Homo sapiens: one gene and its partner. The protein of the gene in region 1 interacts with the protein of each later gene in a pairwise test. Each region holds a gene or a part of one and is shown on either strand. Other genes may lie near its edges.

Evidence for each region. Proteins that work in one complex are often made in the same cells at the same time.
Region 2: the proteins of RUSF1 (region 1) and TMEM248 interact in binary tests that used the Homo sapiens proteins (3 or more experiments, as listed by UniProt).

What each region holds. Positions count from the first base shown.
Region 1 is NC_000016.10:31,498,016-31,505,690, reverse strand, and holds part of RUSF1 (RUS family member 1), read left to right. Parts: intron 1-4,959; coding exon 4,960-5,005; intron 5,006-6,165; coding exon 6,166-6,198; intron 6,199-6,283; coding exon 6,284-6,389; intron 6,390-7,675.
Region 2 is NC_000007.14:66,916,862-66,924,224, reverse strand, and holds the start of TMEM248 (transmembrane protein 248), read right to left. Parts: upstream 3,001-7,363; 5' UTR 2,764-3,000; intron 2,392-2,763; exon of another isoform or gene 2,376-2,391; intron 1-2,375.

The DNA.
Region 1 (7,675 bases):
TGATTTCTTGTTCCGTTATGAATGTATGCTGCTCTAGTGCCACAGTAATCCCCTCCCACATCCTCACCGTGCTGTCTATAGGCACTTTTTCTGTAGTGGTAACAGTATCCTCTTCATTGTCACTGTTACCATGATTGCCTTGATTCAGAACTGAAGGAGGCCAGCCCTTCCACACTGTGGGTATTTCTCATCAGGTGGGACGAGAGACTGAGAAAAGAAATAAGACACAGAGACAGAGTATAGAGAAAGAACAGTGGGCCCAGGGGACCGGCACTCAGCATGCGGAGGACCAGCACCAGCACTGGTCTCTGAATTCCCTCAGTATTGATTACTATTTTCACTATCTCGGCAAGGGGAATGCGGCAGGAGAACAGGGTGATAGTGGGGAGAAGGTCAGCAGGAAAACATGCGAGCAAAGGAATCTGTCACAAATAAGTTCAAGGGAAGGTACTGTGCCCGGATGTGCACGTAGGCCAGACTTATGCTTCTCTCCACCCAGACATCTCAGTGTAGCAGAGTAGCAGAGCAGCATTGCCGCCAGCATATCTCTCCTAATCCTCCTCAGCACAGACCCTTTACAGGTGTCGGGCTGGGGAACAGTCAGGTCTTTTCCTTCCCACGAGGCCACATCTCAGGCTGTCTCAGTAGGGGGAAGCCTTGGACAGTATCCAGGCTTTCTTGGGCAGAGGTCCCTGTGGCTTTCCACAGTGCATTGTGCCCCTGGTTAATCGAGAATGGAGAATGGCAATGACTTTTATGAAGCATACTGCCTGTAAACATATTGTTAACAAGACACATCCTGCACCGCCCTAGATCTCTTAAACCTTGATTCCATACAGCACATTTCTGTGAGCATAGGGTTGGCGCTAAAGTTACAGATTAACAGCATCTCAAGGCAAAACAATTTTCTTAGTACAGATCAAAATGGAGTTTCTTATGTCCTCCTCTTCTACATAGACACAGTAACAGTCTGATCTCTTTCTTTTCCCTACAAGAACAGTTTGTGCTATTTCACCATCGGCTGTTTCTACTGGTGGCATCGTGTCTGCACTCCCAAAAGCTGCAGGTTTTGGAGCATTTCAGATTTTAGGTTTTTGGATTAGGAATGCTTAACCTTGGCCGGGCATGGTGGCTCATCCCTGTAATCCCAGCACTTTGGGATGGGGGGCCAAGGTCGGCAGATCAGTTGAGGTCAGATGCTCAAGACCAGCCTAGCCAACATGGTAAAACGCCATCTGTACTAAAAATACAAAGATTAGCCAGGCATGGTGGCACGTGCCTGGAATCCCAGCTACTCAGGAAGCAGCGGCAGGAAAATCACTTGAACCCAGGAAGTGGAGGTTGCACTGAACCGAGATAGTGCCACTGCACTCCAGCCTGGGCAGCAGAGCAGTATCCTGTCTGAAACAAAAAAGGAACGCTAAACCTTTAGCTCAGACAAGTTATTAAGAAAAATCAAGATCACTTTAAGATATGAAAAAAAAAAAGAAAGGCCAGGTGCCGTGGCTCACGCCTATAATCCCAGCACATTGGGAGGCAGAGGCAGGTGGATCACTTGGGGTCAGGAGTTGGACACCACCCTGGCCAATATGGTTTAACCCCGTCTCTAACAAAAAACTCAAAAATTGGCCAGGCGTGGTGGCAGGCACCTGTAGTCCAGCCTGGATGACAGACTGAGACCCTGTCTCAAAGAAAAAGGATGAAAAATCTACTTAAAAGGCTTGTTATTGGCCAGGTGCGGTGGCTCACGCCTATGATCCCAGCACTTTGGGAGGCTGAGGCAGGCGGATAACCTGAGGTCAGGAGTTCGAGACCAGCCTGACCAACATGGAGAAACCCCCTCTCTACTAATAATACAAAATTAGCCAGGCATGGTTGTGTGCACCTGTAATCCCAGCTACACAGGAGGCTGAGGTAGGAGAATCACTTGAACCTAGTAGGCGGAGGTTGTGGTGAGCCGAGATTGCGCCATTGCACTCCAGCCTGGGCAACGAGTGAAACTCCATCTAAAAAAATAAATAAATAAAGGCTTGTTATTGATAGTAAAAGAAGCTCTCAATTAGGATTTTACAAGCTCATTTTCATCAAACATGGGAAATTTCTGTGCAGAGCTTCATCTGAGAAACTTACTTGGGATTTTTTGATGTGATCATTTTCAGTTACCTGTCTCAGTGGAACGTGATGCCAGTTGTCATGAGTAGCAATAGTAATAAAACTTGTTGCTAATATTTTGGCAACCTACCTTAAGCCACACATTTTGTATGGTTACATGTAATATGTGTCTTGATCTCTGCAGCAGCCATATTAGTTAGCTGCCATTATTCATTTTTTAGATGGAAAAACAGAGACAAAAGTGTGTTTAAGTAACTTGTCCAAGGTCACTTAGGGCCATGATTTTGACCTAGGCAGACTTATTCCTGTGTTCTACTCTTAACTACCACACTCTTTTGCCAGCTAAGAATGTCAAGTGGAGCCAAGTACAATTTGTGGTCAGCTGATTCCTTATTAGGACTCAGATGTTTCTAGATCTTACAGCTTGGCCAGTTGTAAATGAAGAGGAAAAAAAAGCAAGTGGGAGTTTTCTATTCTAGTGGACAGTAGTGACTCAGATGCTAGGGAGTATATATATCATTTGTCCTGTAAATGCCTCTGATGATCCATGGAAAGGTAGAATAGGCTCCCTTTCTGTCAGGTGGCCCAAGGAGGACATACACCTGAGTGGATACAAGTGTGTAGCTAAAGGGAAGAAAAATAGAGTCTGAGCTGGGCACAGTGGCTCACGCCTATAATCCCAACACTTCGGAAGGCCGAGGCGGGTGGATCACCTGAGGTCAGGAGTTTGATACTGGCCTGGCCAACATGGTGAAACCCCATCTCTACTAAAAATACAAAAGTTAGCCAGGTGTGGTGGCTGGCACAATGATGATTTTGCCGAGAATATAATGTACTTGAAGGGAAGAGGTTAAAGTGAGGGATGGGAGGCCTGTAAATCCACCTTGTTGGGTGTTACTTCCAGAGTCAGGACAGAAATGGAGAAACAAAGCAGGCCAGATGGCAGTAGCTTGGACCCATGCTTTCCTTCAGTGAGGTAGCCCCAGCTGATGCTGGCCGTGAGAGAGGGCAGCCCCAGTGTGGCCATATCTTCAGGTTCTTCCAGAGAAGCTGGAAATCCATATTTTCTTGTAAAATACCTCAATTTTATTCACCGATTTAATGGGAGCCTTAGTGAAGGGGAATGATCCCTCCCAAAGTCTCAGGATCATTGTGAAGATGAAAAAGCACAGGTATTTCAGGTGTGCACTGGAGCGCTTACTGATTTCCCTCAAGTCCAGGGTGGGCAAGCATGACTCAGTGCCCAAGAAGGCTCTGGAAAGGGGAGAATGCATCTGCTCTCAGTGGAGAATGGGAGGGCTGGCCCGTGTCATTGCATTTATGTTTCGTGGGAAGCTCCCAGCCCTCATTCCCATAACGTAGTGTCCTTTCTCCTACATCCCCACCTCAGGGTCAGTGCCCTCAAGCTCAGACAAGTCCAAATCCTCTCCCCATGGTATCTGTCCTCTCCCATGTCCACTGTATGAGTCCCTCCCAGGTGTCTCGTTCTAAAATATTTCTGCCAGGCTTAATGGGTGCTGCTCTCTGTATAATGGATGGTCCAGATTGACAAACTTTTTCTGTAAAGGGCCAGATCTTAATGCTTTGCAGGCTTTATAATCTTAGTTGCAGCAACTCAGTTCTGTCATTGTCTTGCAAAAACAGCTATAGACAATCTGTAAACAAATAGGCATGGCTGCATTCCAGTAATACTTTATTTCCAAAACCAGGGAGTAGAAACAGTTTAGTGATTCCTGGTCTAAATCAGTGTTTTCTATACTGATTGTTATCTGCTCTTTGGCTGGATTTTGACCCTGGGATCATCTTGGTCACTGTGGTCATGAAGTACCTGGCAGAGAGAGTTAGGTAGCCAGAAAGCATTTGTTGTGCAAACGAAGGTCCCACTGATTCCAGAGACTTCTCTTACTCTGCCCAGCCTAAGGAGGCCTGTCCCTCTGCCGTGCAACCCCAGCTGCAGTTCAAATCTTTTTTTTTTTTTTTTTCCTGAGACTGGGTCTTGCTCTGTCATCCAGGCTGGAGTGCAGTGACATGATCATAGCTCACTGCAGCATTGATCCTGAGTTCAAGCCATCCTTCCGCCTCAGCCTCCCAAGTAGCTGGGACTACAGGCATGCCACCATGCCTGGCTAATTTCTTTCCTACTTTTTGTAGAGATGGGGTCTTGCTGTGTTGCCCAGGCTGGTCTTGAACTCCTGGCCTCAAGCAGTCCCTGGGCCCAAACCCCCTGTAATCCCAAAGTGCTGGGATTATAGGCCTGAGCCACCATACCCAGCCTAAATCCTTTTATTTATTTATCCCATAATAGCCATCTGTGAGCCAACTGCCCAGCCTAAGAGCTAGAACAGGTTAGCAATAACCTTTGAATTTCCACTTAAGATTTCCTGCTTTTTTGAATAGTTTTACCAAATAGGTAAATATTCCTAAGTGCTATATTGTTTAGTTTTAATTTTAGAGCTTTGCAAACTGTGCTGTATGTGGTCTTCATGAGTTATTTTCATGCAAGAGTTTAATAGTATTCATCTATGAATGAATGCCTCTGGGTGAATATACTAGAATTTATGTATTCTGTCAGTCAACATTTGCATTATTCCCAGGTTTTTTGCTGTTATGAACAATTCTGCAAAGAACATTTCTTGTCCATGTCTCCTAGGGGACATATTGAGGAACTGCTATTTGTAGGCACTTCTGACCCCATTATGTAGCTATGACTATCCACAACTTCTAGTACCAGACCGAGTTCCCAAAGGCAGTGACTCAGTGAATTGGCCAGTTCAGTGCCAGGGTCTGCCAGGCCCCACAGCTCCCACACCTCTTCCTTGCTCCTTACCTGTGCCTTCTTTCCCCCAGATTCAACTGGCATGCTGGGCCGCATCGTCTTTGCCTGGTGGAAAGGGTGAGTTTGTCTTCCCGGCCAGCAACTCTGGCAACTCTTCCCAGTAGTGGTAGTAATGATAGTAATAGTATTGCCATTAATTGTGGCTGTAAGGGTTCCATGAGATGATCTATGCAAAGTGCTTAATGCCCGTGGCATCGTACATAATGGCTCAGTAAACACTAGCTACCATTAACAGCTGTAACTGTGCCCCCTGAGCCTCTGTATGTTGTCTCTAATCCTTACAGCAACTCTGTAGGATGGGATTGGATGTGTACATTTCATAAATGTGAAATATACCTGCATGAGGGAAGTTACCTGCCCAAACCACACAGCTTATAACTAGCGAGATGGGATTTGAACCTGAAGCCTGTGCTTTCCATGGTATTGGGCAGTTCACTGGGCAGAACCCTCAACCAGGCCATGTGTTCAGGATCTCGTTATGTGTGTCTGATACCTCTCCCAAGAATATTCCCATTCCCTCCAGGAGATCTCATACTGAGACTCGGGCCTAATGCTGCAAATCCTGAGCTGGGCTGGGGCTGCAGTATCTCCTGCCACTGGGACCCTAGAGAAGTTGTTTCCAAGTGTTTGTGCACAGGGCAGGGAGTCACTGTCTGACGAAAAGGGCAGGTGAGGTAGCCGTCCACGGTGTTGTGTAACAGAAGTACCCTAGGCCTGGATGTCGGAGCCCGGCTCTCTTAGCCTTTTCCCCAACTCTGCGTGTGATCCAGGGAAATCATATCCCCTGTGAGGGCTAGTTGTCTGTAACATGCAGGGTTACACACTCAATGTGATGTTTACTAGTCCAAAACATGCTCACTGGGTACCCTCACTCTAAAGCAAGAAGAAGAACGGAGAGAGGCAGAGGAACTCAGGAAGAGCCTCCCTCCAAGGACAGACAGAGGCTGGGGAGCAGCCACAAGACAATCAGGGTTTTTCCTTGGTAAATCATGAGTTCATAAGCGGGAGACACTAGGTGATCAGTCAGTCACTGAAGGTTCTCCCAGCTAATGGTGGCATTTTAGGTAGCAGTGACCGGCTGTGGGGACAGATGTCTGTCTGGGGGTGTGGGTTTTCCTGAGCTCTTCAGACTTTACTGTGGTCCAAGACTCCCCACACTGCCCATAGGATGTGTTTCTCCTTAAGTCCAAATTACAACAACCTCTCCTCCCCAACAGGAGCAAACTGGACTGCAATGCCAAGCAGTGGAGGTGAGGAGGGGCGGGGACGGGGGAGGGGAGTCTTCCATTATGAAAGTCTCCTACCTCTGACCTCTAACCTCTGATCCCTCCCCAGGCTTTTTGCGGACATCCTCAATGACGTAGCCATGTTCCTTGAGATTATGGCTCCTGTATACCCAATCTGTTTCACCATGACCGTCTCCACCAGCAACCTAGCCAAGGTAGCTGCCTGTGGGGGCACCCATCTGCCTAAAACACCTGCCTTGGTAGTGTGTGAGTTTACCTGGGCTCTGTGAGTTTACCTGCCACTTCAAGAAGAATAAGAAAGTTCAGATGTTTCTACTCGAACCCAACCATCCTTTCTGACCCTCCTCCAGCCAGACAGCATCTAGTGCCCCAGAAAGTGTAAGGCAATGTCTAGAGCCACAGGACTGGGGAGGGAGCTCCGAGCTGAGAACTAGAAGGGGTTGTCCAATGTTGACATTTTGGGACCAGCTTCCTTGACTTCCCTTTGGTTCTTTCAGTACAGTATTTATTGAGTGCCTACTGCATATTTGGCACAGAATGTGGGCCCCCGTCTTTGAAAGGAAACCACACATAATTGCACCAGTGTTTGTGGAATTATAGGTACAGGTATTCTAAATGAGAAATGTTGGGGCCTGCAAGAGGCTGAGGCGGGGATTCCAGCCTGGTCAGGGAGTGTAGGAAGAGCTCCCCTGAGCCTGGGTCCTGAAGATGGAGTTTAAGGTGCAGGGCGGGTGTTCCGGGCAAAAGAAACAGCACAGCTTAAGGTCTGGAGGCGAGGTGGAGATGGAGCACAGACCGCACAGTGAGCTGGGGGACACGCGGGGCTCAAGCACACTCTTCCTCCACGCCAAGCTGTTGCCTGCACAACCCTTGCAGGTTGATCTCACCCAAATGAGGACACTGAGGCCTGGCATGGTTCAGTAAAGAGCATATCCTGTCAGAGTTAAGTCCCTGGCCCAGAGGAGAAACTCAAGAAAATGGAAAACCCATTCCAAGGCCCATGTGTCAACTTAAAATCACGTTAGGGCCGTGTTTCTCCATAAGTACTAGCATTTGGGGTGCAACGGTTCCTTGTGGTAGAGGACATTTAGCTTCCTTGGTTGCAAGCCTAAATGCTACGAGCACCCCTAAACAGGGTAGGAAACCCCAGAGAAAAGCATGGCTGTAGCTATGGACCGAGGGTTGTGCCATCTGGCTTTTGCTTCAAACTCTGCCTTTGAGACTTCAGTCTCTTCATCTGTCCAACAAGGGAATGGAACAGGGCCATGAGCTTCCCTCTTAAGACCCCTCTCTAGAGTTCCCCTCTCCACAACCTCCATCTCCAGCTGCACCAAGAGAAGCCAGCCTGGCTGTCATCTATGCTGCCGCCACCACCACTGCCACCACCTCCTCCTCTTCCCCCTTCCCCTTATCTGTCACCTTCGGCTGAACCTTCAGTTCTGTTATTTTTCCCTCCTCAAAATCTCCAGTCCATTCTCTC
Region 2 (7,363 bases), on another chromosome or scaffold:
AGGGCTTGCCATTTATCCTTTGGCTGTAGCCAGAGCTGCAGAGACCAGACTAGAGCTGTGCTCCTGCAAACTGAACACAGGCACTGAAACAACTCACAGACATCAAATTTAATTTCCTGATTGTCAATACCAGACAGGAATGACAATCAGCATCTTTTTCATTGTCCTTAATAAAATAAGTTAAGCATTGTTTTATGCCAACGGCCTCTTACAGAACAAGACAAACTCATTAAATGAAAACAATTCTTTAGAAACCAAAGGCCAGGCCTGGTGGCTCACGCCTGTAATCCCAGCACATTGGGAGGCTGAGGCAGGCGGATCACTTGACGTCAAGGGTTTGAGACCAGCCTGGCCAACATGGTGAAACCCTGTCTCCATTAAAAATACACAAATTAGCTGGGTGTGGCGGCATGCACCTGTAGTCCCAGCTACTCAGGAGGCTGAGGAATCGCTTGAACCCAGAAGGCAGAGGTTGCCGACTGCGTCACTGCACTCCAACCTGGGCAACAGAGCAAGACTCCATCTCAAAGAAAACAAAAACAAAAAAACCCAGAAATCTACGAGAAACTAGACTGGGTAGCTTATGCTTATCTTTCTTAGAAAAGCATTTAACCCTTAACTAGCTGCCTCTGCCAATATTTCTAGGCACTGATTGTCCAGCTACCTAGCCTGGGTGCTTGTCCACCAACTGGCCCTAGTTTTTTCATTTCCCAGCTAATTCTGAATGGCCCAAATCCTCTTGATCTTTCTAGGTCCACCTCAAAGTTTACTTCACGAGTTTCGGGCTGAGCAAGGTGGCTCACACCTATACTTCCAGCACTTTGGGAGGCCAAGGTGGGCAGATCACCTGAGGTCAGGAGTTCAAGGCCTGGCCAACAACATGAAACCTCGTCTCTACCAAAAATACAAAAATTAGCCAGGCGTGGTGGCAGGCAACTGTAATCCCAGCTACTCAGGCAGCTGAGGCAGAAAAATCGCTTGAACCTGAGAGGCAGAGGTTGCAGTGAGCTAACTTCGCGCCACTGCACTCCAGCCTAGGCAACAGAGCAAGACTCCGCCTCAAGAAAAAAAAAAAAGTTAGTTTCTGATCCTAACCATAACAAAATCCTGAACAGTTGGTATACCACTATGGCAATTCAGTCCTGCCACATTTTCTAGCCTATTGCTTCCTCTAAGTACATTCCTTACAGGCAGAAACTATTAATATATTCGCACTTATGCCAGGTGCGGGTGGTTCACGCCTATAATTCCAGAACTTTGGGAGGCCGAGGAGGATGGATCACCTGAGGTCAGGAGTTCAAGACCAGCCTGGCCAACATGGTGAAACCTTGTCTCTACTAAAAATACAAAAATTAGCTGGGCATGGTGGCGGGCACCTGTAATCCCAGCTACTAGGGAGGCTGAGGCAGGAGGATTGCTTGGACCTGGGAGGCAGAGGTTGCAGTGAGCAGAGATCGCACCACTGCACTCCAGCCTGGGCGACAAGAGTGAGACTCTGTCTCAAAAACATATATATATATAATCTACCTTTCCTCCTTGCCACAGATGCAGCTAGAGCCTAAACGGAGAAGGTGCCAGTTAACTAGCCTTTGGTGATTTTAGCATTGAGACTCCGGTGCTAGCAGTGATTCCAGTCCACCTGATTCAGGCCACAGGAATTCTCCCAGAATCTTCACTACAAGTTGAAACTCCAAATCCTTAATCCTAGAGAGTAAATGCACTTAGGGTCAATGCACACCTAAGTATACCTTAGGTGCGCGACAGGTCTATTTCCTGTCAGAATCCCTAGATGAAAAGAGGAAGTAGATGGACACCCTTATCGGTCAAGCGCTGATGGAACACTCATCTACAAATGAGATACACATGCTGAGACCCTAAGCTGACCCAAGCTGATGGTGCTATCGAGACAAACCACTTTATCACATATTCATCAGCAGTCTCGGAGTTTTTCTTCCCATTCCCTCCCGTAGCGGCTCACCTTTGAGGCAGGAAAGAAGCAGTTCAGGCGGAAGCCACAATCTTTACAAAGCAGGCTTCAGAGAAGCTCACCATTCATCAGCCAGTGAGGGCTGTCACCTGCTAGTTGAGAACTAAACTCAGACATCAGATTCTTCCACAAAGGCCTCCTCACCAGCTGTCCGATGGGTACGGCGTTCAAACGACTCAAAACAGCACAACAAGCCTGGTTTTATTTCTGATGGTCCCCATCAAGGGAACTGAAACTACATGCCTCTAGATTACCTTGCGATCACTCCTCATTTTATTAAAAACATGAAGAAAGAATCCACCCCATTCCGGATATTTACCAAGCTTGACACAGGGAACACCACTATGCCATTTAACTTTGTGGACGTACGTGAGTCTCTCCCTCCCACCTTTCTGAGATGTGTTTCACTGCCAAACGGAGAAGAAACGCAAACACTCCCCAAAGCCGAAAAATGGCAAACGACCAAGATGTTTCCCGTGCCAAATCCGAATTATCCAGGCCTCGGCTCCAGACGTGGGAAGTCCCGCCATCTCCAAGGCCGGCAGGGAACCCTGGCTCGGGGGACGCGAGTGGGCAAACCCCAGTGTGGGGGGACCAGGCCGAGGTCGGCCGATGCTGGGCGACCCCCGCCAGCAGTTGGGGCGGGGTCTGCACCCTGAGAAGCGGTGAAAAAAGCCGGCGGAGGAGCCGCTCCCGACCAGCACGCTCCCCGCTCCCGGCCCCGCGGGCAGCCCCGACTGGGCCCGACCCCAGCCCGCCCTCCAGCCCCGGCTCACCCCGCCCCGGCGGGCAGCTGCGCGCCCCGGGCCCAGCCGGGCCAGCTGCTCGGCGGACGCCCGCGGTCGCGCTGGGCTCACTCGTGGCGGCGCGTGGCGGGCCCGAGGCCGCTAGGCACCATCTTCTCCCCGCGCCGGGGGCAGCGTCTGGCTCCGCGGGGCCGACGCGAAGACCAGACGCCAACCGGGCTCCCGCCGCCGCCTCAGTTCGGGCTCCGGCAACCGCGGTTTCCGGGTGAAAAAAAAAAAAAAAACCACGCCACCTCCAACGCCGCCGTGACCTCCGACCCCGGGCGTCCGACGGTGGCGCGGCCGGGACAAGCTTCGTCAGAGGCAGGCGGCGGAGACCACGCTTCCGGGACGGGTAGCGTGCATGCGGACGTGCGTGGAGTGCGTGATGGACGTTTATGGGTCTGTGTGCCGGTCTGGTGTTGTGCGTGTGCGTGTGTGCGTAGTGCGTGTATGTGGCTTGTAGTGTGCATCGTGTACAACGGTGTGTGCAGTGAGTGCATGTATGTGCATCTGTGTGCGCGTGTGTGGTGTGTGATGGTATGGGTGTGTGCATGCGTAGATGTGTAGGGAGTGCGCACACGTGTGCATGCTCATGTGTGTGCTATGCGTGTGTCTGTTGATGTGCTTGTATATTAATCACTGCTGATAAACATGTAATTTTGGACCAGGCGCGGTGGCTCAGGCCTGTAATCTCAGCACTTTGGGAGGCCAAGGCAGGAGGATCGCTTGAGTCCTGGAGTTCCAGACCAGCCTGGGTAACATAGGGAGTCTCTGACTCTATTTATAAATAAAATAAAATGAAAATGAAAATTTTTAAAGTATAATTTTGTACAATCACTTTGCAAAGTAATTTGGCATTATGCAGTACACTTAAAGATATACACATCCTCTCTTGAGAATATATTACCCTGGAGAAACAGTTGCACCTATGCACAAGTAGACAAAATAATGCTCATAGCAACACCAATGTTTTTAGCAGCAGTATGACTCACTAAAAATTGGGGAGAAAAAGCAGATGTCCATACAGTCAAATGTAAAAACCAACTTTGATATATTCATGGTTTGGTTTGTTTTTGTAGAGACAGGGTCTCCCTATGTTACTCAAGCTGGTCTCGAACTACTGGACCCAAGTGATCCTCCCACCTCGGGAGGATCTGGGATTACAGGTGTGAGCTGCCACGCCTGGCCCATCTTCGTGTTTAATCGGGTACAAAAGACCAGTGAAAATTATTTAATACAGCTCACACAATTATGGTAGTCAATTGCAGACTATATTGGCAGGGACCAAATCACAAAATGGTACACTGCTACATATTTCCATTATGTAAAATTCAAAACAGGCAAGTTCATAACATATTGTTTAGAGATGCATACATAATTGTTTGAACTGACATGAAGCATGAGAAAAAGATGTATAAACTTCATGTTAAGTGTTAGGGGAATGGGATGGGGGAGGAGTACAGGGTGCTTTAAAGGTAATAAAGTTTTGTTGTTCTTGCTTTTGAGACAAGGTCTTGCTCTGTCACCCAAGCTGGAGTGCAGTCGCATGATCATGGCTCACTGCAGACTCGGCCTCCCAAGCTGAAGTGATCCTCCTGTCTCAGCCTCCTGAGTAGCTGGGACCACAGATGTGCACCATCGTGCCCAGCTAATTTTCATATTTTTCACAGAAATGGGGTTTCCCCCAAATTGCTCAGGCTGGTCTCAAACTCCTGGGCTCAAGTGATCCGCTCACTTCCACCTCCCAAAGTGCTGGGATTACAGGCATGAGCCACCACACCCAGCCATCTTTAACAAAAGTTTATCAGGTGAAGCCTGTAATGTTCAACACAATGGCTCAGTTCCTTCACTGAATACCCTCTTATTTCCATGATTCTTGCCCTCTTTTGTTATCTTGCACCATTTGAATTATCTTCCTTGTTGTAATGGGTGTGACATTATCTGCAAGTGCAGGCAGTATTGAATTGTGTATATAATGATGGAACCAAACTTCCTAATGAGATGTCCCTTACCAGGCTAGGACTGATAATGTAATTAAAGGAGCCCCACCACCAATGGCACCATATATGACTTAGTGATTGAGACCGTAGGAGAATGTAAAAAAGGCAACCTCAAACCTTTCATCCTAGCTGCCTTGTATGGGATTTCAAAAAAAATTTTTGTTTTTGTTTTGAGATGGAGTCTCGCTCTGTCGCCCAGGCTGGAGTGCAGTGGCACGATCTTGGCTCACTGCAACCTCTGCCTCCTGGGTTCAAGCGATTCTCCTGCCTCAGCCTCCTGAGTAGCTGGGATTACAGGCGCATGCCACCACGCCCCGCTAATTTTTGTATTTTTAGTAGAGAAGGTGTTTTGCCATGTTGGTCAGGCTGGTCACGAACTCCTGGCCTCAAGTGATCTGCCCACCTTGGCCTCCCAAACTGTTGGGATTACAGGTGTGAGCCCGAGTCCAGTAAAAAAAAAAAAAAAAAAAAAGAAACCTTTTTAAATAGAGACAAGGTCTCACTGTGTTGCCCAAGCTGGTTTTGAGCTTCTGGCCTTAAGCAATCCTCCTTACTCAGCTTCCCAAAGAGCTGGGATTATACGTGTGAGCTACCATGTCCAGCTGGATTGTAAAATTCTTTTTTTAAAAAAAGATTACATGGTGCAGCCACTTTTAAACAACAATCTGGCAATTTCTCAAAAAGTTTAACATAGAGTTATCATTTGAAGCCAGGTGTGTTGGCTCACGCCTGTAGTCCCAACAGTGGGAGGCTGAGGCAGGAGGATCGCTTGAGCCCAGGAGTTCAAGACCAGCCTGGCCAACATGGTAAAACCCTGTCTCTACTAAAAAATAAAAATAAAAAAATTAGCTGGGCATGGTGGTGGGCACCTGTAATCCCAGCTACTCAGGAGGCTGAGGCAGGAGAATCACTTGAACCTGGGAGGCAGAGGTTGCAGTGAGCTGAGATTGCGCCACTGCCCTCCAGCCTGGGCAACAGAGTGAGACTGTCTAAAAAAAAAAAAAAAAAAAACCATTCTGGAAAACATAGCAAACCCCATCTCATAAATAAATGAACAAGTTCTAAGACATATGGCTTTATTTAAAAAAATAAAAAGTTACTGGCCACATGTGGTGGCTCACGCCTTTAATCCCAGCACTTTGGGAGCCCAAGGTGGGTGGATCACTTGAGGTCAGGAGTTTGAGACCAGCCTTGCCAACATGGCGAAACCCCGTCTCTACTAAAAATACAAAAAATTAACCGGGTTTGGTGGCCGGTGCCTGTAATCCCAGCTACTTGGGAGGCTGAGATGAGTGGCTTGAACCCAGGAAGCAGAGGTTGCAGTGAGCTGAGATCACGCCACTGCACTTCAGCCTGGGCGACAGAGCCAGACCTTGTCGCCAAAAAAAATAAAAGTTACCATTTGACCTCACAATTCCACTCCTGGAGATCCAAGAGAATTGCAAACAAAAATTCCAAACAAAAAGTTGTACAGGAGTGTTTATAGCAGCATCATAATAGCCAAAAAGTGGAAGCAACTCAAATGTTCATCAACTGATTAATGGAAAAACAAAATGTAGCAAATTCACAAGCAGAATGGTATTCAGCCATGAAAAGGAATGAAGAAATAATGCATACTACAGCATAGATGAATGTTGAACACATTATGCCAAGTGAAAGAAGCCAGTCACAAAAGGCCCTGTATTGGATGATTGCGTGTCTATGAAATGTCCAGAATAGACACATTTATGGAACAGAAAGCAGATTGGTGGTTGGGTTGCCTAGGGTGGGTAAGAGGCAATTGGGAGGTGGTAATAGCCAGGGAGTTTCTTTTGGGAGTGATGAAAATATTCAAAAACAGGCAGTGCGCAGTGGCTCATGCCTGTAATCCCACTACTTTGCGAGGCTGAGGCTGGTGGATCACTTGAGGTCAGGAATTTGACACCAGCCTGGCCAACATGGTGAAACTCCATCTGTGTTAAAAATACAAAAAATAGCCAGGCGTTGTGGTGCCTGCCTGTAATCCCAGTTACTCGAGAGACTGAGGCACGAGAATCACTTGAACCTGGGAGGCGGATATTGCAGTGAGCCAAGATCGTGCCATTGCACTCCAGCCTGGGCGACAGAGCAAGACTCTGTCTCAAGAAAAAAAAAATTATGATGATGGTTGCACAATTCTGTGATTAAACTAAAAACCACTGAAGTGTACACTTTTAATTGAGTTAATTGTATGTATGTTAATTAGATCTAAACAAACTTTTTTTTAAGGTTAAGGCTTTACAAAAGAAATAAAACCAAAACAAGAAAAGGGATAAAAATATAGGCTCTAATCATGTGGAAATCCTTAGACAGTTAATTTTTAAATGGCATGAAAAAGAAGGAAATTGACAAAGAGCCTACAAAACTTTGAGATAATTTTCTAGGAATCTGGGGTTCCCACCGTGAAGTCTCCTCAAACTCCTTAGCATATACAGTTCTGAGGCTTAGAGAAGTTTCAGAAAGAAAATTCTTCCAATGAACCTACAGCATTGAATGCCAAAATACCCATGTTTGTTTGGGTTTTTTTATTTATTCATTTTGAGACAGGGTCTTGTTCTGTTGCCCAGGTT